7 separate regions of the Homo sapiens genome follow, and regions 1, 2, 3, 4, 5 and 7 are each linked to region 6. The links come from fine-mapping of genetic effects on gene expression. A gene starts in region 6. Each other region holds a variant in brackets. All regions are shown on one strand. Distances are between the middles of the regions.

The links. PIP is the estimated chance that this variant, and not a neighbour inherited with it, causes the effect.
Region 1: its variant is fine-mapped to the expression of PITRM1 in T cells (TOPMed, PIP above 0.99). The same link has a PIP of 0.9 or more in CD4 T cells, aorta, atrial appendage, blood mononuclear cells, breast and caudate.
Region 2: its variant is fine-mapped to the expression of PITRM1 in blood mononuclear cells (TOPMed, PIP above 0.99).
Region 3: its variant is fine-mapped to the expression of PITRM1 in whole blood (TOPMed, PIP above 0.99).
Region 4: its variant is fine-mapped to the expression of PITRM1 in tibial artery (GTEx, PIP above 0.99). The same link has a PIP of 0.9 or more in thyroid.
Region 5: its variant is fine-mapped to the expression of PITRM1 in pancreas (GTEx, PIP 0.97).
Region 7: its variant is fine-mapped to the expression of PITRM1 in vagina (GTEx, PIP 0.98).

Annotation. Positions count from the first base shown.
Region 1 is chr10:3,145,922-3,149,987 of GRCh38, reverse strand. It overlaps PITRM1 (pitrilysin metallopeptidase 1), which reads left to right. Exons shown (of 27, transcript NM_014889.4): 16 at 235-367; 17 at 1,697-1,817; 18 at 1,925-2,001; 19 at 2,251-2,416; 20 at 2,738-2,838. PITRM1-AS1 (PITRM1 antisense RNA 1) reads right to left here. Exons shown (of 4, transcript NR_038284.1): 4 at 1,359-4,066. Among named protein-coding and RNA genes, the nearest start is that of PITRM1-AS1, 6.4 kb to the right of the region's middle. The variant T/A (reference allele first, on the strand shown) is at 1,681.
Region 2 is chr10:3,133,666-3,137,731 of GRCh38, reverse strand. It overlaps PFKP (phosphofructokinase, platelet), which reads right to left. Exons shown (of 22, transcript NM_002627.5): 20 at 3,150-3,249; 21 at 1,894-1,996; 22 at 930-1,282. The coding sequence ends at 1,153. It overlaps SNORD142 (small nucleolar RNA, C/D box 142), which reads right to left and starts at 3,628; the gene lies at 3,434-3,628. It overlaps PITRM1 (pitrilysin metallopeptidase 1), which reads left to right. Exons shown (of 27, transcript NM_014889.4): 27 at 1-4. RefSeq lists enhancers at 748-1,247, 1,248-1,749. The variant G/T (reference allele first, on the strand shown) is at 2,261.
Region 3 is chr10:3,127,984-3,132,049 of GRCh38, reverse strand. It overlaps PFKP (phosphofructokinase, platelet), which reads right to left. Exons shown (of 22, transcript NM_002627.5): 17 at 2,067-2,231. Among named protein-coding and RNA genes, the nearest start is that of SNORD142, 4.1 kb to the left of the region's middle. RefSeq lists an enhancer at 2,322-2,835. The variant GACC/C (reference allele first, on the strand shown) is at 2,532.
Region 4 is chr10:3,139,613-3,143,677 of GRCh38, reverse strand. PITRM1 (pitrilysin metallopeptidase 1) reads left to right here. Exons shown (of 27, transcript NM_014889.4): 23 at 177-289; 24 at 2,866-2,991. PITRM1-AS1 (PITRM1 antisense RNA 1) reads right to left here and starts at 2,077. Exons shown (of 4, transcript NR_038284.1): 1 at 1,909-2,077; 2 at 590-706. RefSeq lists enhancers at 1,336-1,835, 1,836-2,337. The variant C/T (reference allele first, on the strand shown) is at 1,987.
Region 5 is chr10:3,254,311-3,258,376 of GRCh38, reverse strand. It overlaps LINC02668 (long intergenic non-protein coding RNA 2668), which reads left to right and starts at 858. Exons shown (of 3, transcript NR_187504.1): 1 at 858-1,233; 2 at 1,820-1,917. The variant A/C (reference allele first, on the strand shown) is at 1,854.
Region 6 is chr10:3,170,859-3,174,924 of GRCh38, reverse strand. PITRM1 (pitrilysin metallopeptidase 1) reads left to right here and starts at 2,143. Exons shown (of 27, transcript NM_014889.4): 1 at 2,143-2,208. The coding sequence starts at 2,153. RefSeq lists an enhancer at 593-1,130 and silencers at 1,329-1,488, 1,779-2,618.
Region 7 is chr10:3,728,337-3,732,402 of GRCh38, reverse strand. All of the region lies in intron 1 of LOC105376360 (a long non-coding RNA gene), which reads right to left. Among named protein-coding and RNA genes, the nearest start is that of KLF6, 55 kb to the left of the region's middle. The variant A/T (reference allele first, on the strand shown) is at 2,171.

The DNA of each region.
Region 1 (4,066 bases), 25 kb after region 6:
AGTTCGTGGTTCCATCCTTCCGTTCCCATTCCTTGGAGAGCACGGGTTGCTTTACTATTGAAGACAGTTCCAGTTTTTAGTCATGAAAATATGATTGGGAAATTTATATAAACTCTAGTATAAGTCTTAAACCTCCATTCTTGAAAAAACAATAAATAGCATTGTTTTTAAATATTACAAGTGGTTAGAATTTTACTGGCAGCAATAAAAATTAAATCCCTTTTGTTTTTCTAGCTGGAGATATCCCTGTTCAGTACTGCGCCCAGCCCACCAATGGCATGGTGTATTTCCGGGCCTTCTCCAGCCTGAACACACTCCCCGAGGAGCTGAGGCCCTATGTGCCCCTCTTCTGCAGCGTCCTCACCAAGTACGAGTCGCAACATACCCTTGTGTGTCTTATTAATGTCTGCTTTGTGTGCATATCTGTATTCTAATGCATCAGTAGGAATTACCTTCAGTGAATCACAACTTACAATGTTAGTGTGTAAGTATGGTGTACAATATATTGGTTTAGAATTTTTTATGAAAGTAACATTTTCTTACTATATTACATTGAAATAGTTATGAATCTACGGTATAATATAAGGAGATACTTATAGATCTCCATCTCAGCCTATGAAGCTTTGGAAAGGATTGATGGTTTAATCCGAAAATGTAAGTAATTGGATGTGCAGTGTGGCCTGGGGCTGCCTTAGGAACAGGTGTGCCTGCTGCGTGCGTGGCTCCTCCTCCAAGCCGACCCTGCAGTTGCTGTCGTCCTCCCTAGGTGGGGTGTGCACAGATCTGGAAACACACACACGAGTGCACACATCAACACTTGACTTTTTGCCCAGCTCTGCCGTGGCCGAGGTTGCAGGACAAGCAGTAGACAGGGCTGTGGGCTCCTGTTCCCATCCAGAATAATAGGGCGACAGGGAACCCTGCAGCCAGCTTCAGGGACCACTGCCCAACCTGACATGCAGCTGGGGTCTTCCCTTTGTGGAGATGAAGTTGTCTGCATGCTGCAGAAAGCTATGTGGCTGTGACACCTTCTGCACCCTGGCTGAGGGTCCGCTCAGATGGAAAAATGTCTTCAGGGTTTTGAAGGTTCCCTGCCTTTCTTTTTAAATATAGCTGCCACTGTTCATCCTTTTGTAGCGGTTTAGAAAACACCTCATGGTCATTCCCTTGACTCAATTATTGCTGGCATTAGCAGTGTCACTGTGAATGTTTCTTTCAAAAGCATGAGTGCTGAGAGGAAACTGCTTTTCTTAAAAACTTAAAAAACCTTTAGTCTTCGGACTCCCCCGCCCAGGCTACCAGACATTCGAGCAAAACAAAGGAAGTATGTATCACGGTGATCTGGGTGAAGAGAGTAGGGAGTAGTCATAAAACATTTATTGAAGAGCTTACAACTGGAAATGCCTATTTTAGAATGGTGTTTTAAGTGCAGACACTGGCTGCCCAAGTGTCTTGTGCCTCTGGACGCTAACTTCCTAGGCGGGAGAAACTGGGGTCTCCCTGGGGAAGGGGGCACATGAACTCTCGAGGGCGAAGGCCAGAGTGCACCTGCTTATGACCTTCGAAGTGTAGAGAGGTTGGCAAAGCCGCAGTTATTGAATTAATGGAAGCAACTTGTAACTCAAGATGCACGATTTTAAAAATGATTCAGTAAAGACTGACTTGTAATCGGGGCGATGC[T/A]TCTCTGCTGTGTCAGGCTGGGCTGCGGCCTTCTTGACTACCGGGAGCAGGCTCAGCAGATAGAATTGAAGACCGGAGGGATGAGTGCTTCTCCCCACGTGCTCCCCGACGACTCACACATGGACACCTACGAGCAGGTAGCCTGGTACCGTCAGACGACTGCTGCGGTGGGAAGCTTTTCTCCAGTGTCTGTCACTGTTCGATTCGGCCCTAATTCCTTTCTTCTGTGTTTTCTTTGGTTCAGGGTGTGCTTTTCTCCTCTCTCTGCCTGGATCGAAACCTGCCAGACATGATGCAGCTATGGAGTGAAATATTTAACAAGTAACTTTATTTGCAAGAGTTGTCCATTCTTGGGGTGTACTAGAGATCTTTGTTTGAAGTACTTTAAAGGAGACAGTTTTACTCGTGTGTGTTGTTGTTTTCCAAGTCTGACTTTTACTTGTAGTTCATATGGACTTATAAAATTTCTTTGGTTGTTAAAGTACTCTGAAAACTTAATCAACTTTCCATGATACTGAAGGGACGTGAGGAATGGGTCTCCAGGAATTTTTTCTTCTCCTTTTTCCATAGCCCGTGCTTTGAAGAAGAGGAGCACTTCAAGGTGCTGGTGAAGATGACCGCCCAGGAGCTCGCCAATGGAATTCCTGACTCTGGGCACCTGTACGCATCCATCAGGGCAGGCCGGACCCTCACGCCCGCAGGGGACCTGCAGGAGACCTTCAGCGGGATGGATCAGGTGGGAAGCTTGGAAGGAACCTCTATTACTCCGGTTTAGCCACATATTCCAGAGTTACTAATTTCTTTGGGAATACATTAATTTATGTCCCAGAAATGCTAACTTTCTAACTGACTAAATATGGGGAAGAATTGGTTGGTTGGTTTTGACTCATCTTCCTCTTTGTACCACCCTGCATCCCAGTTCCAGCCCTGCCCAAGCCGTGCACTCGCACACATAACCCCTGCCCAAGCAGGGTTCTGATGTCACAGGTGCTTGGTTCAGACTCAGCGGGTCTGTTGTAGCCTCTGCCTCTCTCTGAGCGAGTTTCCTCTGGCTTAGGTGCGGCTGATGAAGAGGATTGCAGAAATGACAGATATCAAACCCATCCTGAGGAAGCTCCCGCGTATCAAGAAACACTTGTTAAATGGTGATAATATGAGGTGCATGTGTGATTTGTTTCTAAATATTTTATGATTCATTCTATTAAGTATAGTTTTTAGGTATTTCTTACTTGTAGAAACTTCAAGATAGAGTGCTTGGTAAAGGTTATAGAATTTATTGTAAATGTCAAGTGTTCTAACAAACTAAGAAAATATTTTAAGCCTATTAAAAGTTGTAGGAGATGGGGAAGAAAGCAGGCTAATTTTGTGCTAGAAGTGCAAATAGATTGAGGGCAAGTAGTTATATTGCTTCCAAAAGCACATGGTCCGTAACTGAGGTATCTGTAAAGGTGAGCTTGCTGAAGACCAGAGTAAAAGTGCAGTTTCTTATAAAATTATGTGATGCTTTGAGGAAACATCTGGCAGCTCAGTCCTATACCTTCAGTTGGCCTTATGCCCTCAGATGTGTGAGCATGAATAAAGTTTAAAAATGATTGTTTATTTTCAGCATCTTATTGTCAGTGACATTGATGTATTCATCAGTACTTAACAAGAAAATGTTTGCTGAAGTCACTTGTCCTTCTTCACACAGAGTCCTGATGCCTTTCCCCAGTCATGTCCTGAGAATCCCTGGCAGATTCTACAGGGCGGTCTGTGGGTGGCCAGAGGTGAAGCCTGGCGATCAGGGTCTCTTGGCATTGGGCTCAGGCAGGCCTGGCTTCTGGTGCCGCCGGGTCAGCACTCACACTCGCTCCCAGGCGGTCCTGGGCAGCTGACCCACTTGCGTCTTCTGCTTCCTCCTCCATAAAACCTTCCTTTGCAGGTTTATCGTAAGGAATAAAAGAAAGAATATCTGCAAGGCAGCATACATGCCTGGGATATAGTTAGTATTAATATAATGGTACCTGCTGTTACTTTAACTAGAATAAGTTCAGGATTTACAGCTGAAAGGAAAAAATATACACTCTGTCAATATACTGTAGAGTTCAAGTAGCTTTTATATGATAGTAGTATTTGCAATTCTGTGGAATTTGGAAGAGTTCTATTTTCATGTAACTTTGAGAGCATGGTATTTTTTTGCAGTTTATAATGTTCTGCTTTAACAACCAGTTCACATTTTCAAATTGATGACTTCTGGACAGTAATTTTAAAAGTTGTCAGTGTTTTGATAGTGTAATTCCGAAGGCACGGTTAGCAGATCTTAATAGTCTCTGTATTTTCTTTGCTCTTCAGAAGAACTAGAGTTTAGAGTCACAGGCTCCGCGTATGGACGGCTTCATTAGCTGCC
Region 2 (4,066 bases), 37 kb after region 6:
TTAACCTCTGCTTGAGTCATTATTTTAAGCAGCATTTAGGGCCTTTATTTAAAAACAGAAGTAAAATGAAAAGGTGCACAAGGGTGTCCCACGTCTGCCTGCGCTGATTCAGGAAACTCCATCACACCGAGGCCCTGGGGGAGTGTCCACCAGACGGGAGTTCACCGCGGCGGCTGCATGGAAACCGTCCTGAGAAGCAAGTGGGTTGGGGTGAGTAAGCGCTTGCTTCATCGTTACAGAGCCAGAAAGGAAAGCCTCCGCGCTAGCTCTTTCTTGGCTGTCGGACTCTGATTTCCCAAACAGAGTTTGTTTTTGGCCTCTCCTCTCCCTCCACCCAGCTCTCTGCCCCCATTTCTGAGGCGCAGCTGTTCTCTCTTGCAGACTAGAGCTAAGAGGCAGAAACGCTGTCCCTACAGGAGGGGGGCCCACCAGGGCAGCAGGGCTGTCATCCCAGCAGCCGTGTCTACTCTGGCAGGAGTCTTCCGGAGAGTTCCAACCTAGGTCCCAGCGAGGACTGTGGCTTGGCCTGGAGGAGAAGCTGGCTATCAGATTTTTGAACCCACCTCCGCCCCACCCACCCCTTGGTGGTTTTAACATGCAGCTAGGATTGCAATCAAGAGGACAAGTAACTAAGATTCATGTTTTACTTTCAAAGGAGAGCAGGAGCCTGGGGTCGAGGCCCAGGGTCCCGGCCTGCTGCTGTGGATGGAAACTGACACATGGCAGATATGGAATGGTGAGTAAACGTGGCCTTCCCCTTGGCCTGTGTGAACTCCTGGCTTTGTTCTCCTTGTATGACGTGTGCATAGTTCAGTGATCCCTATAAAAATATTTTGCTAATCTTTGCCCACAAAACTGAGAAAACCTTTAGTAGCCACCCATAGATTGAGGTACTAATCTCCTACTTAAAAAACTAAAACAGAGGACTGTTGGAGTCATAGGCAAATGTTTAATTAATTCTGCTCATATGCACATCTGAAAGCATGAGACACACTCCACAGACAGCACGCACTGGAGCAGGTGGGGCAGATGGGCACTCGCCGATTAGGTATTAATGTCAATAATACGTGCATAAAGTGCTGATAAAATAACTTAAGTGTTACAAAAACAGACAGTCCACGGTGGCTGCAGGCACATGCAGGCGGGACTGGGTCAGACACTCCAGGGCTGCACATGTTCCAGCTGGCCTGAGTCCGACACGTCATAGCTGGCCTTGTACTTGGCCAGGATTTTCATGAGGGGCCGTAGCTTGAGCCACCACTGTTCTTTGGGAATCCTGTGCCTGTGGAGGTAAGAGGAGACAGCAGTGAGGCCTGCAGTCACTGGCGGGAGATGCCTCCGCCTGGCCAGCACAGCGAGCGGTCTTGCCAGAAACACAGGGTTTGTAGGGTCGGCTGAATCAACTAGATGATAAAGCCAATTTCAGGATCAAATGAAACCATTGTTTAAAATTATTCCCGAAGACCCAGTGGTGGAGTCTCGCTCTGTCGCCAGGCTTGAGTACAGTGGTGCAATCTCAGCTCACTGCAACCTCTGCCTCCCGGGTTCAAGCGATTTCTCCTGCCTCAGCCTCCTGAGTAGCTGGGACTACAGGTGTGCATCACCATGCCTGGCTCATTTTTGTATTTTTAGTAGAGATGGGGTTTCACCATATGAGCCAGGTTGGTCTCGATCTCTTGACCTTGTGATCCACCTGTCTCGGCCTCCCACAGTGCTGGGATTATAGGCATGAGCCACCGCGCCCAGCCAAGACCTAGTATTTTTTTAACTGAGCTTCAGAAAAGCCAGTTCCTCAAACCCCTGAATGAGTTGCCGACAGCAACAGCAATGGCCATTCCCCTGTCCCGTACTCACATTGGGGTCTTATTGCCTCAGGGAACCCAGCCAACTTACTCAAAATCCGTTTGCTTCTTCAGCTCTGCCACAGGTTGAAAAATAACGTTTCTTTTGCTTATTCCCAGCACACAAATGGAATCATCGGTGGTAAATTTTTTTCCTATAAAAGATTTTAAAAAAGATTAATAACACCCTGTCAACATGGGCAGGTGGGGGAGCAGAATCACGGGGCGAGATGAGAACTGAGATTCCTCAGAACCATGCTGAACCCGGCCTGGAAGCCCAGTGAGACTGAGAACAGCCGCGCAGTGGGGCCAGCACCTGGCCTCGTGCAGCTCTGCTCCTGTGGGACTGCCCCGAGGGCTTCCTGGAAAGCAGCTTTTGTTTTTTCCTCCCAGTGGAGAGAATTTTTCACTAAATAGTG[G/T]AATAGGGAAATTAGCTTAAATTACAGGACACTAATTTATGCTCACACATACACACACTGAGAGGCAAAAAGCATCCATAGCTAAATTAGCAAAAGAAAATCGCTGTAGAAAGAATCAAAGCCAAAGTCAGTTCTTCAAAAAGACAAACCCATTGAAACTATTCACATCACTGGTTTTTATAGACTGTCATTTTTCTAAGTTGGACACTGGCAGTGATAGTGGTTTGCCGGAATAAAAGCACACATCTGCTATGACTGATTAAGAAAGCTGAGGGGGGTGGGGGTGAGAAAGATGCTGGCACAAAGAGCCACTCAGGAATGAGTGGGGAACAGCCATGTTGGAGCCATTAACAAGAGTATTATAAAAAAGTCATGTTTCTTGAAACTTCAGTTTAAAGATTTCTTAGAATATGTAACTTACAGAACTGATTTAAGGAAGAACATGCACAGTTCTACGAACATGCAGTTCTACAAACATGAACAATTCATTCAGCAGTCAGATCTTCCTCAAAACTGGAAGTTTTGATGGATAGTCACAAGGAGGTTGTCCTAGCAAACATTCAAAAAATAGAAGGCCCCACTTAAACTGTGAGGGGAAATTGCTGGCCAACGTTCAGGATCTCTAGAGCAAAAAGCCTGCACAAAAGAACTGCAGACTGCATCTAGCAGTGATAAAAGAGAACATGTCATACCCAAGCTGATCTTATCCCAGGAATCCAAGGTTGGTTAAATAGCAACACTCAGAGATCAGGAGTAAAACATCACGTGCAGCTCAGTACTGAACTGAAGAAGGAACCAGCACCCTACTTCTCCCCGATAGGACAGCATTTTCACCAAGGCAGGACGGCCTGCATCACGAGGCTGTGGCCTCCCTCCCCAGACCCCTTACCTCTGCCCCGGGCCTCCTTGAGTTTTGCAGTGATCCACTCCATAGCTCTGGCAGAGATTTTGGTTCCAAAGTTTCTATCAAATGGAGAGGGTGCCCCACCCTGTTGGTGGTTAGAGTTATATGAAATACCAGTTATACAGTAACACTTTGCTGTTAAATAGAAATGACAATTTCTATTTTGCAGAATTCATGTTTTTATTTCTAGGTCCTTATAGTTGGAACAGAACAAAACCTGTGATTCCCGTAGCCTGAACTTGGCCTGTTAAGAAAAAGTATCAAGTGTTCCCCCCGCTCAGTAAGATGAGGATTTTAATAAACCGAACAAGTCAACTAACAATCTTCATTATTTTAAAATCTTAAATCAGGATTTCATGAACTCATCTGAGCTGGGGATGGGTCACAGCTTTAATCTGATAACCGTTGTGGATTCTTTAAGAAGATCACACATATGCCTACTATTTCATCATCATTGCAGGGGATTCATGGGCTCTGGCTTAAAAGTATAAGAATAGGAGGTGGTGAGGAAGGAGTGTGTGCAAGTTAGGAGGCCTGGACCCTGTGTCCCAGGCTCAGCTCATAACACGTGTGTGCCTGTGTGCAGCTCATTCCAGGTCATTCTGACTTGGGGTGTCAAGTATACTACATGTCTGATAATCCATTTTAAATCTTAGGGAAGCTCCAGTTTTTAACTTGATGAAGTGTTTAATTTGAATAAGCATTTCCAAGTAATGGGGGTATCACTGTTTTCATGAAAGCTGACAGTTCCCTTAAAATCCCCATTACTCAAACCTCACCAACAAAAGAATCCTAAAGCTGGTGATGTTTGGCATCACTTAAAAGTTCAGATGTTTTGGCTGGGCACAGTGGCTCAGGCCTGTATTCCCACCACTTTGGGAGGCTGAGGTGGGTGAATCATC
Region 3 (4,066 bases), 43 kb after region 6:
GACGATGTTCTCGGTGCTCTCAGAGGAAAGAGTGACCTGTGGCCTTTCTATGGAATCTCATGTGACGGCCTGATGAGCAGTGTCTGACCAAAGAATTTTGTAGACTCACATTCATACACAGATTTCTTAAGGAAAAGATGGTCTTAGAGTAAGAACATCCCCATTTCAGATCATGTTAGGAGGATTACAAGAGGGAGGTAATTCTCTAATGATTCATCCTAAGAAAATGGAGGTTTTTACATCTAATCAAATCTGTCACTGGGCGCAATGGCAGAATTTCACAAAGTAGGAGGCCAGGCATGGTGGCTCATGCCTGTAGTCCCAGCACTTTGGGAGGCCAAGGCGGATAGATTGCCTGAGGTCAGGAGTTTGAGAGCAGCCTGGCCAACATGGTGAAACCCCCGTCTCTACTAAAAATACAAAAAATTAGCCAGGCGTGGTGGCAGGTGCCTGTAGTCCCACCTACTTGGGAGGCTGAGGCAGGAGAATTGCTTAAACCCAGGAGGCGGAAGTTGCAGTGAGCCGAGATTGTGCCACTACACTCCAGCCTGGGTGACAGAGCGAGACTCCATCTCAAAAATTAAAGCAAAAAATAAAAATCTGTCATAATTTCTCTTAAGCCCTTGCCATGCTGAGCGCTGGTGAGGCAGGATCTTTGGATAGATTTCTGAAATACGGTCATGAGTCATGTAACAGGGGGATATGTTCCTTGAGAAATGCATTGCTAGGTGACTTAAGCCTTGCGCAAACATCCTACAGTGAACTCACACAAACCCAGGAGGCAGAGCCTGCTGCACACCTGTTGTTCCTGGCTACAAACCTGAATGTCTGGGACTGTTGAATACTGCAGGCAATTGTGTATCTAAACATGTCTAGATGTAGAAAAGCACAGTAAGAGATACATATTTTTTGATAAAAAACATCTTTTTATAAAATATATATTATAAAAATATATGTAAAAAGATATGTTTTTATAAAAGATAAAAAACTGCACCTGTTTGGGGCAGCTCCATTATAATCTTATGGGACCCACTGTTGACAGAAACATCATGATGCAGTGAATGACTCCACAAATATTTGACATGGTAAAGAAATTCGTGATTCACATGTCACATAATTAGTGCCAAGGCCCTTTTTACTTGATCTATTTGGCTCAGAAACAAGTAACATCCTAACTTTTTAAAAGACAATGGTGCTGGGCGCGGTGGCTCATGCCTGTAATCCCAGCACTTTGGGAGGCCGAGGTGGGCAGATCACGAGGTCAGAAGTTTGAGACCAGCCTGACCAACATGGTGAAACCTCATCTCTACTAAAAATACAAAATTAGCTGGGCGTGGTGGCACGTGCCTGTAATCCCAGCTACTTGGGAGGCTAAGGCAGGTGAATCGCTTGAACCTGGGAGTTGGAGGTTGCAGTAAGCCGAGACCACGCCACTGCACTCCAGCCTGGGTGACAGCAAGACTCCCTCTCTAAATAAAGACAATTGTTCAAGTTGCATTTTATCTGCCAAGGCCTGTCATCTTGCATGAAGTTTAGCAACTTTGAATGTTGCAGGGTCCAGGCCTGGATTCTGCTGTGTCGTCCAAGCAGGGGCAGACCGCGGGGTCAGCGACACCCTTCCCTAAAAGAGCCACAGATGCCGAGAAACCACGGTCATGTCTGTGTCCGTTTAGAGGCAGACGCAGCATCAGGGGCCTCAGGATTTAAAAGAAGCTGCAGCAACCTTCAGAGCCTGTCGCAGACGTGGGTGGTGACTGTCAGCGGAGGTTCTCAAATCATTGGTGACATAAGTGAGACAACATTAACTACACAACAGACTATGTCAAACAAACAAGCTTGTGTTTCACACATGAGACTAGAAGGTGTCCTCAACCAGGCACACCCACCGTCACCTGACACGCAGTAGGGGCACCTGGGCGATGCGAAGTGTATCAAGCGTGGCATGTTCTGTAGCATCTCCATCTCCATGCCCCTTGGAAAGCAAACCACCCTAGACACGATGATTCACTCCGCAGCACCCAGTGGATCCCAAGGGGACGGGCCCTGAGGCCAGCCCCGTCACATACCTGCAGATCCCTGATGTCGAAGGGCTCTTCGAAAATGTATGCGGCATCAGCTCCGGCCGCGAGCCCCCCCATGTTGGCCAGGTAGCCACAGTAGCCGCCCATGGTCTCGATGATGAACACGCGCCGCTTGGTTCCGCTGGCGGACTGCTTGATGCGGTCGCAGGTCTGGTCACAGAGAAGCGATCAGTCACTCCAGCCCAGGCCCGGGGCGCGCCCACCATCCCAGAGCTCCCCCAAGAGTGAGTGCAGCAAGGCCCCCCCACCGCGCCCAAACATGCGGTCCCAGCATCCCGCAGAGGTGAAGGGTGTGCAGCAGCCAGGATGTGCCCTCGGAGTGGGTGTGAACGTGGTCCCCCGCAACCCCACCATGGCAGCCACCTGGAGGTGACCTCGATGTCCCGTTTTGGGGGCCTGGCCATCTGCCGCTCCCTTCTCCCAGGCCCCATAGAAGGGGACGGAAAAGAC[GACC/C]CCACAAGCCAGCTCACTCCACGCTGCTCTGTGACTGTCCCTGCTGAAGCCGCTTTCACCGGACACAGACACCGTTAGGTGTTAGCTGAGATGTTAGGGGACTGTCCCCTGCCAGCTTAGTCCGTGAGAACCGCTGTGCTATTCTATTTTCTTCTGAAAAGCTCCCTGTGATTTTAGAGGTGCGGCCATCTTCCATCCATTGGCGAATGTTACATTTATGGAAACTCTACTCAAAGGCAGATGGTGGTTCTTAGACCCAGGCACCTGGGGAAGTCTTCCAGATGCACAGGCATCGGATCCCAGAGTGAAATGTCTGCCATCCGCCCTCCATGAGGACCCAAGCTCGGCGGGGAGAAAAATGGCAAAGAAATGCATCGGCCGCCTTCCCACCCATACATCAGTCCGGCTGCAACGCCCTCTTCCTGGGCCTCAGCTCCCACCCCGGGACCCTCCAATCCGTTCACACAGAAAGGACCCCATCTATAAAAAACATAAATCTGATCCAGTTCTTGGTTTATTCAAAACCCTTTGCTCACTTCAAGTACACATCAAGCCTTTGTCGGGAATCCCCGGCCCCGCCTGCTCCCGGCACCAGGTCCTGTTCCAGCCACCCCAGGTCCTCCTGGGGCCTTTGGATATGCTGGCCGCTGTGTGCATCACATTCCGGCACAGTGGTGGGCGGGAGAGCAGCCCCCAAAGGAATCCCAGTCCTATCCCTAATCCCTGGAACCTGGGAATGCTCCCTCATGCGGTGATAAAGGTGAATCCTAGGAGTACCCAGGTGGGCCTTAAATGCCATCACCTGCATCAGCAGATGAGGGGCGCAGAGGCTGAAGGCCCTGGAGCGGGATGCTGCACACCCACATGGAAGGAGGAGGCGCCAGGGAACAAGGCGTACAAGGCGTGCAAGGCCCGCAACTCTGGGCACCTGAACGGGCCACGAGGGACGCTCCTGGAGCAAACATTCTGGCCTCAGCCCATGGCTCCTGCGCTCCAGAGCTGTGGGAGAGAGTATTATTTTCCAGCCCCAGGTGTGTGGTCAGTGTCACAGCGGCCACGGGACACACAGAGGCACCTTCCTCAGCTCTGATCCAGAGGAAAATGTCATTTCCTCAGGAAAACACCACCTGGTTTCTAGGACCACAAAGTTCCCTCTGTCAGGGGCTCTCGGAGCCACCCCATGTCCTCTCTTCACAGAAATTATCCCGGTGTCTCTCCCTGCAGTTACCTTGTGGTTATTTGACTTGGGAGGATCTTCCTCACTAGGCTGCAAATTCCATGAGGACAGGAACTGTGGGCTGGGCTTACACCAGTGCACCATCAGCAGCACCCGGCCGAGCCCCCACAGCAGGCGCTCAAGAAATGCTTGTCTCTGAATGACATAAGCATGGTATTCCCCAGCCAGCCGTCCGTCCGTCCTGGTCAACGGCTGATCCTGCAGGATTCCCTAATGGGCCTCCATGGGACTCAGCCAAGAGTAAGAGCATGAAGTGGGGGTGTGGACTTGAGACTAGGAGCCACGTGAGAGTCTG
Region 4 (4,065 bases), 31 kb after region 6:
CCCCAGCACCTGGCTGCAGAGTGTCACGGAGATGGGACCCCTGAGATGGCTCCAGTCCCAGTGCCGTGGGCAGTGCGTGGGAGCACAGCCGCCTCTGACCCCTGAGTGGGTCCAGTCCCAGTGCCGTGGGCGGTGCATGGCAGCACAGCCGCCTCTGACCATACCGTGTCCCTCAGGAACCCACCTTCAAGCCCTGGCAGATGAAGACTCACTTCCTGATGCCCTTCCCGGTGAATTACGTGGGTGAATGCATCCGAACTGTCCCCTACACGGACCCAGATCATGCCAGGTAGGAGGGTGTAGGTCGGGACCTCTCAGGCCTGAGCCTTACGGAAGAGCTTGTCAAGGCTGTTCGAGTTCACAGGGCGTGTTTTAGCACAGGAAAAGTCTGTGCTGACTCTGAGTGTTGGACCTGGGGCTGTGTGAGTCTACGAGTGCTCCTCTTTAACCAGCAGTCTTTGTGAACAGAGACCCAGTTTTAGAGCCAGTCATTTTTGTAAACAATTTCTATTATTGAGGAGTCCTATGAACAATACAGATACCTATGACCTTAAACACAGACTGCTTTCAACATGCCCCATGTACTCACCTCATCTCTAGGTAAAAATCGAATGAATTTAGGCTGAGATTTCTGATAAACATGGTAGGTTAAGCCTTCATGAGGACAGATGCGTGAATGACAGCAAAGGCAGATCAAGACACGAAGCTACAAGGGAAAGAGTGGGAGGTGACCCGGAGAGCCATGGGGGCTGCAGGAGAACCTCGTGAGCCAGACTCTGGGTGGGTGGGGGGTGCCTGACCTGGGGCCACAGAGGGACAGGGCAGTGGGGAGAAACCAGGTGGTCCTGCAGAGCCCTGCAGATGGCAGGGCTGGAGGCCGCCTCACAGTCCCTCTAAGGAGTTTGTCTCCCCTGTCTCCCCACCAAGTCAGAAGCTCAGGGAAGGAGGCCCTGGGTTGAGCAGCCGAAGCCACAGCCAAGAGTCAGGGTCAGGCCTGTTCCCAAAGTGGCGTGGGGCGAGGGAGTTTGCAGCCTACAGACTGGCCCTCCAGCCCCTTCTTCCGAACTCTGGCTGCCCCTTGGCTGTGTTCATCCCATCTGGGGAAACTGGCCAGACCAGGACAGACTCACAGACGTGCACCTTTGGGGACCCGTCAGTTGGGTGTGTATGACACAGATATGTGCAAACATGTTATATCCCGGAAATTCACTTCCTGTGTCCTTGTCCCAGGCAGCTACCCCCATGAGGGACTAAACCAAGGAGTGAGCCTGGTAGAGAGGGGGAAGGCAGGCTTAGGCCTGGGCAGCCTGTCCTGATTGGAGAAGGAGCCGGGCCTCCGAGGTGCACGTGTGTCACAGAGGGTCACAGATGGGGAGGTGTGTAGGAGGCAGGCGGGAAGAAACGTGGGGCTGCAGTGGGGGCCCAGAAAGAGCTGGCTGTAGAAGTATGTGGTCAGCTGTTTTGTTCATTTATTTCCATATTTGTAGAAGATGAACAGATCTGTCTGCTATGCCGGCAGAAGAGTGGTGTCTGTTTCCACTATCCAACAGGAAAATGTAGACAGAAAACACTAAAAATGTGGAGGTTCCCCCTGGGCAGTGGGATTCCAGATCTTTTTTTCCTTGTGTTTTGTATTTTATAATCTTTCAAAAGTGAGCATGTTTTTAATATACAAGTAATAGAAATTTCTCAGGAAGGATAATGTGTGGACGGATGGAACGCCATCCCTGCCGGTGCTGGTGGAGACTCCGTCCCCCAGGGTCTGACTCCAGCCTCGCTAGTCCCGGCTGACGGCGCCCCAGCCACCCGAGTGGCGCTGGGTTTCTCCTGGAGGACCCACACGAGATGGTCGTGACTTCTCCCACCACAGCCCCTGGGAACACGCCCACTCCTTCCTTGATTTCCCACCTGGCCTATTTGACTCCCTTCATCCACTTTAGGAAAAGGCCTGTCTGTGGAAGCGGCGACCTGGGGCTGATCTCACCA[C/T]GGGCGTCTTCAAGGAGCCTGTGTCTGTGCTGCAGACCCTCCCATCATTGTCTGCCCCGCCTTCTGTCGGAGGTGGATGTGTTCTAGAATCAGCTTGAATGTGATGTTACCGTTCACAGTGGAAGGCAGAGGAAATTGGCCCTGTTCCTAGAAATGTGCTTTATCAGAGAGTGTGTGTTTTCTTAAGGGATTCTTATAAAACTCACTTCAGTTTCCTTTCTTTCCATATTCTGATGTGAGACATTTAAATAAATGTTCATTTGCTCATTTGCCTTTATAATAGAAATAACCTCTTTCTACTTCACGAGATTTTAAAAATGCCACATGTGCATTGGAACAAGTTAAGCAGTGTGGTGCTGGAAGTGTTAAGATTCCCTCCCCACCACCTCTCCCTTCAACCCTGTAATCTAAGCCAACTGTTTGAAAATTGTGCTTCCTTGTGCTTTTTAGTTTTGGTTAATTGAAAAGAAAATCTCATGCCTGTAAGCTCAGCACTTTGAAGGCAGGAGGATCACTTGAAGCCAGGTGTTTGAGACCAGCCTGGGCAACAAAGCTAGACCCTGCCTCTACAAAAACTGTAAAAATAGTCAGGCGTGGTGGCACACACCTGTAGGCCCAGCTACTCAGGAGGCTGTTGTGGGAGGATCCCTTGAGCCCAGGAGTTCAAAGCTGCAGTGAGCTGTGATTGCACTAATGCACTCCAGCCTGGCGACAGAGCGAGACCCCATCTCTTAAAAAACAAGACCAAAATATGGGACCATAATTTATGCAGCATTATTTTACAACTCGATTTTCATTTTCACTTAATCCAACAATTACTTCATTGTCTATGCTTTTTTATCAGCCACGGTATTAACTTGCATTTTTTAATCATTTCAGTCTTAAAATCCTTGCACGTTTGATGACTGCCAAATTCTTGCATACAGAAATTCGAGAAAAAGGCGGTGCTTATGGTGGAGGCGCAAAACTCAGCCACAATGGGATTTTCACCCTTTACTCTTACAGGTGAGTTTTGCTCTAGTTCACACATTGGGATGCACACGTCGTTTTAGTCTTCTACTCATGATTATCAGTGTCATTTTCTTCTACTGCAGTGAATTTTAGACAAAAGTTGTTCTGTGTGCTTCTTTTCACTCCTTGGGCACTTAGCCACACCCAGCAATGTCCTTTCTGGCGCGAGGATTAGGGCCAGCAGCCGAAACAGGAAGCATTCTGCCTTCAGTAAACCCTGGCTTCAGCCAGCATATTTTGGCAGAACACGGTAGTGCCTCCATCCGTGGGTTTGCCTTCCATGGTTTATTACCCACAGTCCCCCTCGGTCTGAAAATATTAAATGGAAAATTCCAGACATAAACACTTCCTAAGTTTTAAATTGTACACCATTCTTCTAAGCAGTGGGATGAAAGCTGACGCTGTCTACGGTACCTGCCTGTTGGTCACCCAGTAGCCGTCTAGGTATCAGATACGCTGTGGGTATCCAAGAGCTTCTGTTCACAGAACCCTTGTTTTACTTAATAGTAGCCCATCAGCGTAACTTTTATTACAGTATAATTGTTGTATTTTGTTAATATCTTGCTGCACCTAATCTATAAACTTTATCATAGGTATAGGAAAAAAACATAGTATCCATAGTGGCTGTCTGAGGTTGCAGCCCTGCCGTGGGGGTCCTGAAACACAGGCCCCAGGTGAGGGGGCTGATACAGCCTGAGAGCGTTCTTAGCTCATTTCAGTTGGAGGTGCCTGATGTGGATGCAGTTCTGTTAGCTTTCATAAACATAACACCGTTACTGTAAAGCAATATTCTTGATTTTCTATGGCTTTGCTGCCTAAGAGAACATGTATTCCAACAGTTTTTAAGAAGGAGCCAGCCGGCCGCAGTGGCAAGTGCCTGTGGTCCTAGCTACAGGAGGCTAAGGCGGGAGGATCCCTTGAGCCTGGGGAGGTTGAAACTGCAGTGAGCAGATTGCGCCACTGCACACCAGCCTGGGCGACAGTGAGACCCTGTCCCGTGGATGCATAGCTAGATTAGGTAGGTAGGCAGGCATGTAGGTAGATACGTAGGTAGCCATTGCCACTCTG
Region 5 (4,066 bases), 83 kb before region 6:
ATAACTTATGACAGGACTAGTAACCGCAGCTGAGCAGGCTTCTTTCCGGAGCCTCTTGTCCTCTAAACGGGTTTTTCTGGACACTTGCAGTAGGTAAGGAGGCTGTCGACTATGGAACTGAGCGAAGACAGGTTCGGGGCTCACCCTTACCGATCCGCTCCGCAAACCTCGGGAATCCCTCTGCCTCTCTGTTCTGTTGTTCTTACCTAAACAATAAGCTATCGGCCTCAGCTGTCTCCGGGAAACTTTGAACTCTAAGAGGGCAGGTTTTACTTGTTCTCCTCGAAATGCATTTCAGACTGGGAGTGGAGTGTGGGAGCGGGAACATTAAGTTAGAGCAGGCTGCAAACCCTCCACCTGGAAATGTGTCTGCACTGCTGTCACCAGCCTGTCTGGGTCTCGGCTCTGTCCTTCCCTTGGTGTGTCCTGGGGTAGGCGTTGAATGAGAAAACCATGGTTGCAGAGGCAACACATCCTTTCCTTGAACAGTGTGCACTTGAGGAACGAATTAAGACCCGTAAACAAGGATGAAAGCCCCCGCCCCGCAGACTTCAGCTCCTCCTCCATGAAGGACGCCGCCTGGGAGGTGAGTCCAGGCCGGGCCAGGGAGGGCCTCCTGTGGGAAGGTGCATTTTCACCTTACAGCCGGGAAGTAGACAGCTGCGTCACAGTTTCACTCATGCCGGTCTCTTCCTGTGCACATTCAATGTTAACATTATTCTGGCAAAAGCCTTGCTGCAGATAGTCTCTCCGGTCCCTCCTACATCTCTTTCCAGAAGACAGTTTAAAAGGACACATTTCATCACCTCTCAGAAGGGGTTAACATCACAGAATTCCAAGTCTGAGGGTGGAGCCCTGATCCTGAGAAGGTTTTGTTGAGTTCGGGACAGTATTTCTTTACCCATCCTTCATGAAGATAAAAAATGAGGCAAAATAGACACTAAAATGGTCTCTGACATCTCCTCATGCCACCAGACAAGGAGTAACCATGGTAACAAGAAGCCTAGAAAAATTGGGGAATGAGGAAGACCAGGAATGAGAGCTCCCCTCAGCCCTGGGGGGACCTGAGTGTCCACAGCTGAGCCTTCTCTGCTTCCCTTTTCTCTTCTGGATTCTGATGGAGGATATTTTCATCTTCCTCCCAAAATCATCAGAAAGCATAAGGACATATATAAACCGCTTTGCAAAAAGAGAGTGTATGGAATAAAAGAGAAAATGAAGAAGAGGAGAAAGGTAAGATACTCCTTACACACACACAAGACTAAAGGAATAACCTGGGCTTTGAAAAGAGCATTAAAAGTTTGTTTAATAAAATAGTCTTTGCTGCAAGAGCTTCTAAAGAGATCAGATATAAAAACCAAATCACTGGGATCTTTTCAAAGAAGGGACTCCCATCGTGCCCGTGAGGAGGTTGTCAGTTCCCCCAACAGTCCAGGAAAGATCCCCTGCGGCCCAGTGGCTCTGCTCACCCTGAGGCCATCCTGTTTGAGAGATTTGCTTCACCTGGGCTGGGAGGAAGAGGAAAGCTTTTCTGGAGAGCAAGCTCAGGAAACCCACCCTTCCCGAGTGCCTCCAAGGCCCCAGGAGCCTGGCAGTCCTGGCCTGGTCTCTCCACAGGCCGCAGCCTCCCTTGCTTTGCCCTCTTTGGTTTGAAAGTTTCTCAGTATACGTGTGGATTTCCACATAGCTTGGAGGTTTCTCATATGTCCTGTATGTATGTATGTTCCACCAAATCTGAACATTGTGTGTTTGGGGGGGGTTGTGTGTTTTCTGTTTTGTTTTGCCTTTTTTGAGATGGGGTTGTGCTCTGTTCACCCAGGCTGGAGTGCAATGGTGTGATCTCAGCTCACTGC[A/C]GCCTCAACCTCCCTGGCTCAGGTGATTCTCCCACCTCAGCTTCCTGATTAACTGGGATTACAGGTATGTGCCACAATGCCCAGCTACTTTTTTGTAGTTTTAGTAGAGACAGGGTTTTTGCTACATTGCCTTGGTTGGTCTCAAACTCCTGGACTCAAGCAATCTGCCCACCTTGGCCTCCCAAAGTGCTGAGATTACAGGTGTGAGCCACCACACCCGGTCCAAATCTGAACATTAAAGGCATGTATGTGTGTACATTAAATGTATGTCTATTCATTTGAAATGTATGCTTAATTAAATCTGAGACTGTGGACTAATCTATAAAACCAAGTCATTCAAAGTGAGGGCTAGACCCGGGATGACTGTCTACAGACAGAGCTGTATCAGACTGGGAGGACCAACAGTAGATGCTTAGGATCAAAATTCTACAGTCACATCTGTTTTAATTCCTAAAACCATTGTCAACTGGGCTTTAAAATAAGACCTACAAAATGCTATAAACTGCAATCTACTTGAGTCTATTTTAGTAGCAAGGAGAGGCACTTCAGGTTGAAGGAATGGGTTTGCTCCTCAGGATACCTCATTGAAAAGGGCATCAACTCGAAGCCAGAGGCTAAGTTGGAGGAAACAGTTCCCTGGGACTCTGGAAAGCCGCAAGCAGTAGATTCAGGCTCTCCTGGCTGTGGACTCAGCTCCCTCCCACTGTGTTCCTACCCAAGTCTCAGCTTAAGAAAACAGAAAACATTATGTTTATAAGCTTTCCTCTAAATACAAGCAAATGCATTGTGTATTTGTTTCCTGAATGGTTCAGTAAGGTCTGCACATCTAGAGATTTTTTTTTTTTTTTGAGACAGGGTCTTACTCTGTCACCCGGGCTGGAGTGCAGTGGCGCTATCTCAACTCACTGCAACCTCTGCCTCCCTGGTTCAAGTGATTCTCCTGCCTCAGCCTCCTGAGTAGCTGGGACTACAGGTGCCCATCATCATGCCCAGCTAATTTTAGTATTTTTAGTAGAGATGGGGTTTTACTGTGTTGGTCAGGCTGGTCGTGAACTCCTGACCTCAGGTGATCCACCCGCCTTGGCCTCCCAAAGTGCTGGGATTACAGGCTAGAGCCACTGCTCCTGGCCCCCGGTCATTTTTGCCACAAACATTGAGCTCAGATTTGGCTGGGCCCCGCCTCTCACAGATGAGGGAAACAGCAATTTTGCATGTCTCTGCTCTAAATTTCGTGACCACCAGAAGCTGGATGGAAGTAGACTGCACCTGGGCCTGTCTGCAAAGTCAGGTCTCTTTTGTAAATATTTTGTATCCCTTGGCTAATTACACAAAGCATTAGTCTGATCTCACAGTGTGGGAGGTCTGTGACTTTGCTGACTCTTGATGCCAGCCCATAGGCAGACTGGAACATTTCAAAATCATTTTTTAAAAGTTCGTGAGAGTAAAATATAATGAAAATTGTTCCTAAAAAACAAAACTGTAAAATAGCTGTTGACTCTTTTAAAAAATAACAGAAGTAGCTCAAGATTCTAAAAACAGCAGAGGAGATTGTTCTGTGTAACCAGCAATGAGCAGGCAGGCTGTAGTGATGATCGACATCTGTGTTTGCAAGAGCCAAAGGGTGCCGCTCTTTTACGGGTCTTGGAAATAAATCTTCGGTATGTAGATAGCTAAGAGCTGACCATTGTGTCTCCATTTCAAATTGTGTCCTTTTAATGTGGAAGAGGATTTATGAACTTTATTATCAACATGTAGCTTGTTGAAAATCAAATTTTTGTTTATTTCAGGAAAGCAGAAGTACTCAAATTATTTTATTAGACTTGATGAAAAATGGGCTGGTTGTGCTCAGAGACTTTGATTCTGATTCTAGCTCTCTAACCTTCAGCACTTCTCTGCTATTTCTCTTTTAGGTTATATTTTTAAATGAAAAAATAAGCAAAATCCTCTGCAGTGTTGAAAAAAAGTTGAAGAGCTTGGTCCATGGGTAGATTAATAGATAGGAAGATGATGGACCAACAGATGGATGAGTGGGTGGGTGGGTGAGTGGAGGGGCGGATGGGGGAATAGGTGGATGGTTGGATAGGTGGGTAGATGGGGGGATGGATTGATAGATGGATAGGTGGATGGGAGGGTAGGTGTGTGGATAAGTGGGTGGATGAGTGGAGGGGTGGATGGGGGAATAGGTGGATGGTTGGATAGGTGGGTAGGTGGGT
Region 6 (4,066 bases):
ATATCTCCCTAAAATGTATAAAAGCAAGTTGTGGCCAGGCGCGGTGGCTCACGCCTGTAATCCCAATACTTTGGGAGGCGGAGGCGGGCAAATCACGAGGTCAGGAGTTCGAGACCAGCCTGACCAATATGGTGAAACCCCGTCTCTACTAAAAATACAAAAAAAAAAAAAATTAGCTGGGCATAGTGGTGGGTGCCTGTAATCCCAGCTACTCGGGAAGCTGAAGCAGGAGACTCGCTTGAGCCCGGGAGGCTGAGGTTGCACTGAGCCAAGATTGCGCCACTGCAATCCAGCCAGGGCGACAGAGTGAGACACGGTATTAAAAAAAAAAAAAAAAAAAAGTTGTGCCACGACCATGTTGGCCACATGTCATCTGGACCTCCTGGGGCTGTGTCATGGGCATGCCCTTAACCTTGGCAAAATTAACTTTCTAAATTGATTGAGACCTAGATCGGATATTTTGTGTGCACACACCCAAATTCTCCCTAGAAGACGGGTGATGCGCAGAGCGTGTTTGTGTCTGTCGCTCCTATTATTGCCTGTGTTCTGGTTCCTTTGGGCTCTTCAATAAGGAGGTACGTGTTTACCTGCAGCCCAGAACTGGCTGCCCTATGGAGAGTTTAGGGTAGACACGTTGGGACTTTTTCCCACAGTATTACCTTCCACATTGCTTCCAAAGTTTTAGCTTGTTCAAGCCGACTGCAGCCATCTACTTACCATTTAATTTTTAATTTTTTTTTTCAGAGCCCATTAGGAGACAGAGGGAGATTTGAGCCTGTTTGTATTCGTGATACAAGGGGAAAAAAAGAGGGAGAAGGTGAAGGGAGGAAGGAAGAGAGGCTCTGAGAAACCCGGAAGGTCAGACTTGGTGCGGACTTCCTCCAAGGGCTACCCCACCCTCTCCAAGCGTGGCTAATCCCAGGGCCCCTTCTGGCCCACAGTGCAGAACCACCCACTCCTACGGGGGCCTCCTTCAGCCTCTCTGGGGGTTCCCAGAAGGGCCCTTGGGCACTTGGGCAATGTCAGGGGGCTCAGGTGCATCTTCCTAGACACGAAACGAAGAGGAAAGCGGAGGCAGCAGCGGGGGCCACAGGCTCCCATGCAGCAGCTCGGAGCTGTGCTGTGCTTCGCTGGCGGCCATCCGTGATACGTGTGACACCGTGGGGCCCTGGCCCTGGGACCTGCCATGCAGCCTTGAGATCTCATCCAAGAAGCCCCCAGACCCCAAGGTTCAGGCCTGGCGGGGCAGCAGAACGCCTTTGGAGCTCAGCTCAGCCCTACAAACAGGACCAACGCCCACACCAAGGCCAGAGAGGGCTACCAAGTTTCACCTGGCCCAGCTTCCGGCAGCCCCCAACCAGGCCACTACCCTCACCTGAACACCGCGGTCCATCACCAAGCCCCACCCACTTCTGCCAGCCCTGCCCCCACAAGGACCCACCTCTCGCATGCAAGCCCCGCCCCCAAGGCCCAGCTCACCTGCAGCCCCGCCCCACCAGGCTCCACCCCATCGCCTGCAAGCCCCATCCCCAAGGCCCAGCTCACTTGCATCCCCGCCCACTAGGCTCCACCCTGTCACCTGCAAGCCCCGCCCCCAAGGCTCAGCTCACTTGCAATCCCCTCTCCCACTGGTCTCCACTCCTCACCTGCAAAGAGCCACCCCTCGCTAAGCCCCTCCCATCACTTGCACAGCCCCACCCAACACAGCACGCCATTCCAGGAGCCCCTCTTTTCACCAGCGCAGCCCCGCCCTTCACCAGGCCCCACTTCATCTGCATACACACGCCTCTCGCCACGCCCCACTTCTCGCCTGCCCACTTCCCCCTCCTATCATCTGTCCACATCCTGCTGCTGGCCGAACCCCGCCCCTTTCGGCAAGACGGCCCCGCCCCTTTCTACCCGTACCACGCCCCTCGCCTTGCCCGCCTCCTTCGGCACGTCGGCCCCGCCCCTCCCGCCCATCTCCGTCCGCACCGCCCTCCCGCCCGTCCCAGAGCAGTGGAGGCCTACCCTTTTCACCTACAGCCTATCGCAGAGGACGTCGCTGTTCGCGTTGACCAATAGGAGTGGTAGCTGTCACGGCAAGCCCCGCCCCGCGCCCTGCGTCGGGTTAAGAGGGGGTTCCTCGCCAGCCAGGTGCTCGTCATGCGCAATGTGGCGCTGCGGCGGGCGGCAGGGCCTGTGTGTGCTGAGGCGGCTGAGCGGCGGGTGAGACGCTGCGACGGGAGGCGCTCGGCGCGCTGGTACCCGGGAGGGGAGGGTCCAGGGCAGGCCGGAGGCGTAGGGGTCCTCGTCCCTGCGCCCGGGGCTGGCAGCTCCCCAAGCTGTGGGCGTCCCGCACCCCGAGCCCTTCCTGGAGCTCCCGCATCCGAGGCTCCGAGGCCGGAGGACCTCGGAGCTCCTTCCTACTCCCAGGGGCGATGCCCCGGGCTGGGGGCCGGGCCTGCCCGCGGCGCTCCCGGCGGGGCCCTCCATTAGCGTGGGCTTTAACGGGGGTAGTAAATGGGGTCGGCATTTGCGGTTCTCGCTGACAGCTTTGCTCCTAGTTCATTTTTGTTGGGAGGCCGAGTCCTTAAGAGACCCGAGGCGCCCACAGCCCATACTTAAAGTCTCGCTGTGTTCAGAGAACTGACGCCTCCCGGAATTGAACTGTTTTGTTTTTTTAATGACTCAATTTATGGGGAAAAAAATGACGAAGCAGTTTAGTGTTCATGGTAATCCACGAGCCCGTGTTTAATATAAGGTAATAGTTCAGCGCTGCCGGCCCAGGCCGGGAGGCACGGGGCGTCCGTGGCATGAGTTCGGCCTGGCCTTACCGCTCAGGAGTTTCCTATCATGTCCTTGATAAGTAACTTCTTAAAACGCTTCTGTCCCATAATTCTGAAATTTGCTAAATCAGTAAGCAAATGTTGGTTATAGCATATCTTCATAATATTGCCAGTGACTGAATAGGTTTTTTCTTCCTGTACATATTATCTTTAAAATAAATATTTCGGTGGGATACATTAATGTAGAAAATCCCATACGACATATAATACAATTGGAGAGAATAATAATTACGTGTTTTTTAAGAGCAGGGATCTTGCTCTGTTTCCCAGGCTGGTTTGATCCCCCTCCTCAGCCTCTCGCATTGCGGGGTTACAGGTGTGAGCCATCTCATTCAGGTGAGAATAATTATTAGAAATAGGTTGGGCGCGGTGGCTCACACCTGTAATCCCAGCATGTTGGGAGGCCAAGGCGGGCAGACCACTTGAGGTCAGGAGTTCAAGACCAGCCTGGCCGACATGGTGAAACTGTCTCTACTAAAAATACAAAAATTAGCTGGGCGTAGTAGTGAGCACTTGTAGTCCCAGCCACTCAGGAGGCTGAGACAGAATTGCTTGAACCCGGGAGGTGGAGGTTGCAGTGAGTCGAGATTGCACCGCTGCACTCCAGCCTGGGCAACAGAGTGAGATCTGTCTCAAAAAAGAAAATTAGTGTCCCTGTGACCAAGTTGAAGATTCCCCTAACTGCTCGTAACTCTCTCCCTCCCTCTTAGATTATCACGGTCATAACATACAGAAATGTCCTTGCTTTTTTTTTTTTTAATATTTTACCATTTTTATGCGTTCTGACAATGTCTTGTTACCTATTTGAATAATACCTGTTTAGGATAATACTGTATCATGTGTATCTTTTGTTTCACGTTATGTGACCCATATCTTTGTTACATGCCACTGTAGGCCCTTATATTGGTAAGGTTTTTTTTTTTTTTTTTTTTTTTTTTTTTTTTTTTTTAATTGAACGATTAGTCCGCACTTTATCCATTCTCTGTCGATACACCTCCGGGTGAGTTGAGTTTGGGACTGTCAGGGTTCGTGCTGACATTTTTGTCTGTGAGTGCTGGGGCCGCAGTGTAAGGTGTGGACGATAGAGACCAAGAGGTGAATGGATTTCCAATCTTCAGCATTTTTTTCTTTTTTTTCCGACAGTCTTGCTCTGTCACCCAGGCTGGAGTGCAGTGGCGTGATCTCGGCCCACTGCAGCCTCCACTTCCCGGGTTCAAGCGATTCTCCTGCCTCAGCCT
Region 7 (4,066 bases), 560 kb before region 6:
GGGAGGCAAGGAGGAGCAAGTCATGTCTTACATGGATGGCAGCAGGCAAAGAGAGAGAGAGATTGTACAGGGAAACTCCTCTTTATAAAACTGTCAGATCTCATGAGACTTAATCAGTATCATGAGAACAGCATGGGAAAGACTTGTCCCCATGATTCAGTTACCTCCCAGCAGGTCCCTCCCACAAAACGTGGGAATTCAAGATGAGATTTAGGTGGGGACACAGCCAAACCATATCAATAAAGGTATAATTTTTGTCTATATTATGTCATATGTAATTTTAAACAAGATCTAAATGAATTTCCTCTGGAATCTTTATAAATTCACTTACAAATATACCTTGAAAATAAGTGAGTGAGAATAGCCAAGTGCAACTGTGAATTTTAAAAAAGAAGAGCAAGAAAGGGGAATTTAACCTACCAGGACACATAGACATGTAAAACATATTCTCATAATACTGTTTGGACAAAAATGTAATGTAATGCATGTAATTATTGTAAGGTATGTTAATGTAACACATAGCCGCCAAATTAACCCTAGTACATGGAAAAATCTAGTATCTTTCTCTTTTTGTTGATTTATTTATTTGAGACTGAGTCTTGCTCTGTCACCCAGGCTGGAGTGCAGTGGTGCACTCTTGGGTCGCTGCAACCTCCGCCTTCTGGGTTCAAGCAATTCTCTTGCCTCAGACTCCTGAGTAGCTGGAATTACAAGTGCCTGCCACCATACCTGGTTAATTTTTGTATTTTTAGTAGAGCCAGGGTTTCACCATGTTGGCCAGGCTGGTCTCAGGTGATTTGCCCACCTCTGCCTCCCAAGGTGATAGGATTACAGGCGTGAGCCACCACACCCGGCTCTTCTTCCTTTTAAAGGTTTTTAAAATAACAAGTCCAAGTCTCTATTTCCTATGAATAGGCCTAATCACTGATTAAATCTATGTCGATGCTGATGTGTGCAAATCCCATCATGAGGGTATTTGGTGTAAAAGTGGAGACAGTTTTCAGTTGTGTGAGTGATGAGCATTGTGTACATATACATTTGAGACTCTGAGCTTGAATTCTTCAAATTTTCACTAAATCTTCCCCCAAATAACATGCATCAGTGGGTAGTGAACTGTCCTGTCCTACTGAGCCTGGTAAACTGGGTTGCTAAGTTTGGAAAGCCCAGCGAGTCCTATGGAGTGGGAGTGCTCTGTGTTCGAGAGGAGTCCTCGTCATCACTGTGGCGTTCTCCTGGCTTCTTCAGAATTGTTCCTGTGTCCACACACATAGCAACCTTAATATGTAAGTGCTACAAAATTACTTACGTACATGTATTTCTTTATTTTGATATATGAAGGTGTTTGCTATCTTGACCCAAATCTCTGAAGTGAAAACCCAGAAGAAGGTGAGTATGTATTGAACTATATTTTAATATTACATGAGGCTCTTCTGGGCCCAAGGAGACATTAAAAGGGCATAGGTACTGAGGCAGTAACTCACTAATGAGCCACCCTGGCAGTGTGCAAGTCAACCCAAAGTACTTAATGGGATCTCAGGGAGCGGCTGAAGCCCAAGAAAGGTCCAGCTCATTACGTGTGGCCACTAGCTCAAACCATTTAAGTCATGTTTATTTTATTATTTAAGGGAACTTATGCTTTTGCAATACTAAACAAAGAGCAACATAGATGGGACATCTAAGTAGAAGAACGAGTTTACCTGCCATATACACACCATAGGCCATAACTCCTAATTGACCTAGAGGAGGAAAATAGAGGTGATAATGTATTCACAGATCTGCTCATTTGTTTCTTCACAATCATTTCTGAAAGCCGAATATATTCCCGCTAGAAGCTGAAGGCGAAAAGGTGAATAAGACTGTCCACTGCCCAACGACACCCACTGCCTTGCGCTGAACAAAGCAGTCCACTGTGGAGTATTTCAAGGGTCCAGCACAGCCTGATGAGGATGGCTAAGTGTGGGAGGTTAGCTGTGGAGGGGAGACTTCCAAAGGGGACACGATGAAGGCTGGGCCAATGTCAGGACAGAGTCAGGAAAACCGTGTTGTCTGCGTAAAGAGGGCGGCGGCCTCACGGCGAGGTTCACCCTGGTTTTTCTCCTGGTCAGACCCAGGGCACCTGGCCTGCGGGGCTGCACCCATGGCTCTCCTCTCACCCACCCCTGGGACATCA[A/T]TGTGGGAACTCTCGCTCCAGGAAATCTTTTAATTTCATGGTGCTGTGAAGACAACCCAAGGACCCTACTTAAAATCGCAGCCCTGCCACCTCCTCTGCCACACTTGACCCCTCCTGTCCGGCTCTACTTTTTGTTTTTCCAGAGTGCTTACCACCTTCTCCCATACCATTGCACGCATTCATTACATTGCATATTTACATTTGTCTTCACTGGCTGTAATACAAGCCCCTGAAGGCAAAGGATCTTCATCTATTGTATCCACTGATGTATTTCAAGCTCCTCAAACCTGCCGAGAACATAGTAGGTACATTGCAGATATTTGTGGAATGAATGAATACAAATATTAGATAGGTCAGGAAATCTAAACAGCTAGAAAACATGGCTTGAATACTACTCAGCTAGAACCAAAAGAGACGAGAGAAATGCCGGTGTCCAGTGTTGTCATGGAAACACATGCTGCGGTGGCCACTGCCTGGCTGGGACTAGGACCCCCATCCCCACGGGCTCCACTGAAGGCCCCTTCACCCTCATGCCTGCAAGGAGAGGCAGCCGTGTGCGGCGTCCATCTCCTGCTATTTACCAGCTTGTTGGTGGATCTGCCTGTTTGACAGAAGCTCAGTGGTCTGAGTCATCTTAGTGGCAAGAAAACCTGTGAAATGTGGTTTTGAAATTTCCAGACTCTATAAGACCAAAAGTCAAGGAGAAAAGGGCTCAGAATGGGAAGCCAGTGAACCAGTGCCTGGTCTTGCGGCCGCATAACTCCACGTATCCAGTGAGACAAACCTTTTCTTTCTACGGCATGCTTTTGATTATACTGCCAGGTTATCCCTATTTTCTCAGTCCATTCTTTTTTTTTTTTTTTTTTTTTTTTTGAGAGACAGAGTCTCACTCTGTTGCCCAGGCTGGAGTGCAGTGGCGTGATCTTGGCTCACTGCAACCTCTGCCTCCTGGGTTCTAGCAATTCTCCTGCCTCAACCTCCCTAGTAGCTGGGATTGCAGGTGTGTGCCACCAAACTCAGCTAATTTTTTGTATTTTAGTAGAGATGGGGTTTCACCATGTTGCCCAGGCTGGTCTCCAGCTACTGAGCTCAGGCAATCTGCCCGCCTCGGCCTCCCAAAGTGCTGGGATTACAGGCGTGAGCCACCGCACTTGGGCTTCTCAGTCCATTCTTATAGCATTTTAAGGTATGAATACATTATTATTAGCATTTGATAAATAAGAAATTGAAGCTGAAAGACATCCGGTAATTTCTCAAGGACAAGTGATCTAAGTTAGTAAGTGGTGAAATCAGGCTTTGAACTCAGGCAGTTTCATTTCAAAGCCCCTGCAGGCTACCCATGCATATGCAAGCTACCCAGGTCCCTGCTTTAGTTTATTTGTAATAGGAGAAGAAAAGATGACACGTGTATCCTAATCAGGCTATGGGGCACTTTGAGTTTCTAGGCTAAAAAATGCCACGCAGAACCAGCTACGTCTAGCCAAAGTCCTAAAGCTGGCAAAGTTTATTCTGCAATCATTTACTTATCTGTGGGCCTCTGTACCACTTAGGGTTGGGCCCAGTTGTAAATGTGGTATTGACAAGGGATAGAGAAATAGATGATTGGAAATTGATTTATTCCTTTTGTAGGAGAAAAATGGACTATTTAGTAAATGATAACTTTTAACCCTTATTCATTCATCCAGAAAACCAAAATGAAAATGAAGAAATTAGATCTCCACTTCATATCGTGTGTAAAAATCAATTCTAGACTGATTAAAGTCTTAAGTGTAAAAAGCAAAATTAAAAATTTTAAGACAATATACAAAACAAAAATCAATATGACTATGGGATTTAGGAAGTTTTTTTATTATCATTTTTTCGAATGTCTTTTTAAACAAGACACAAAAATACACA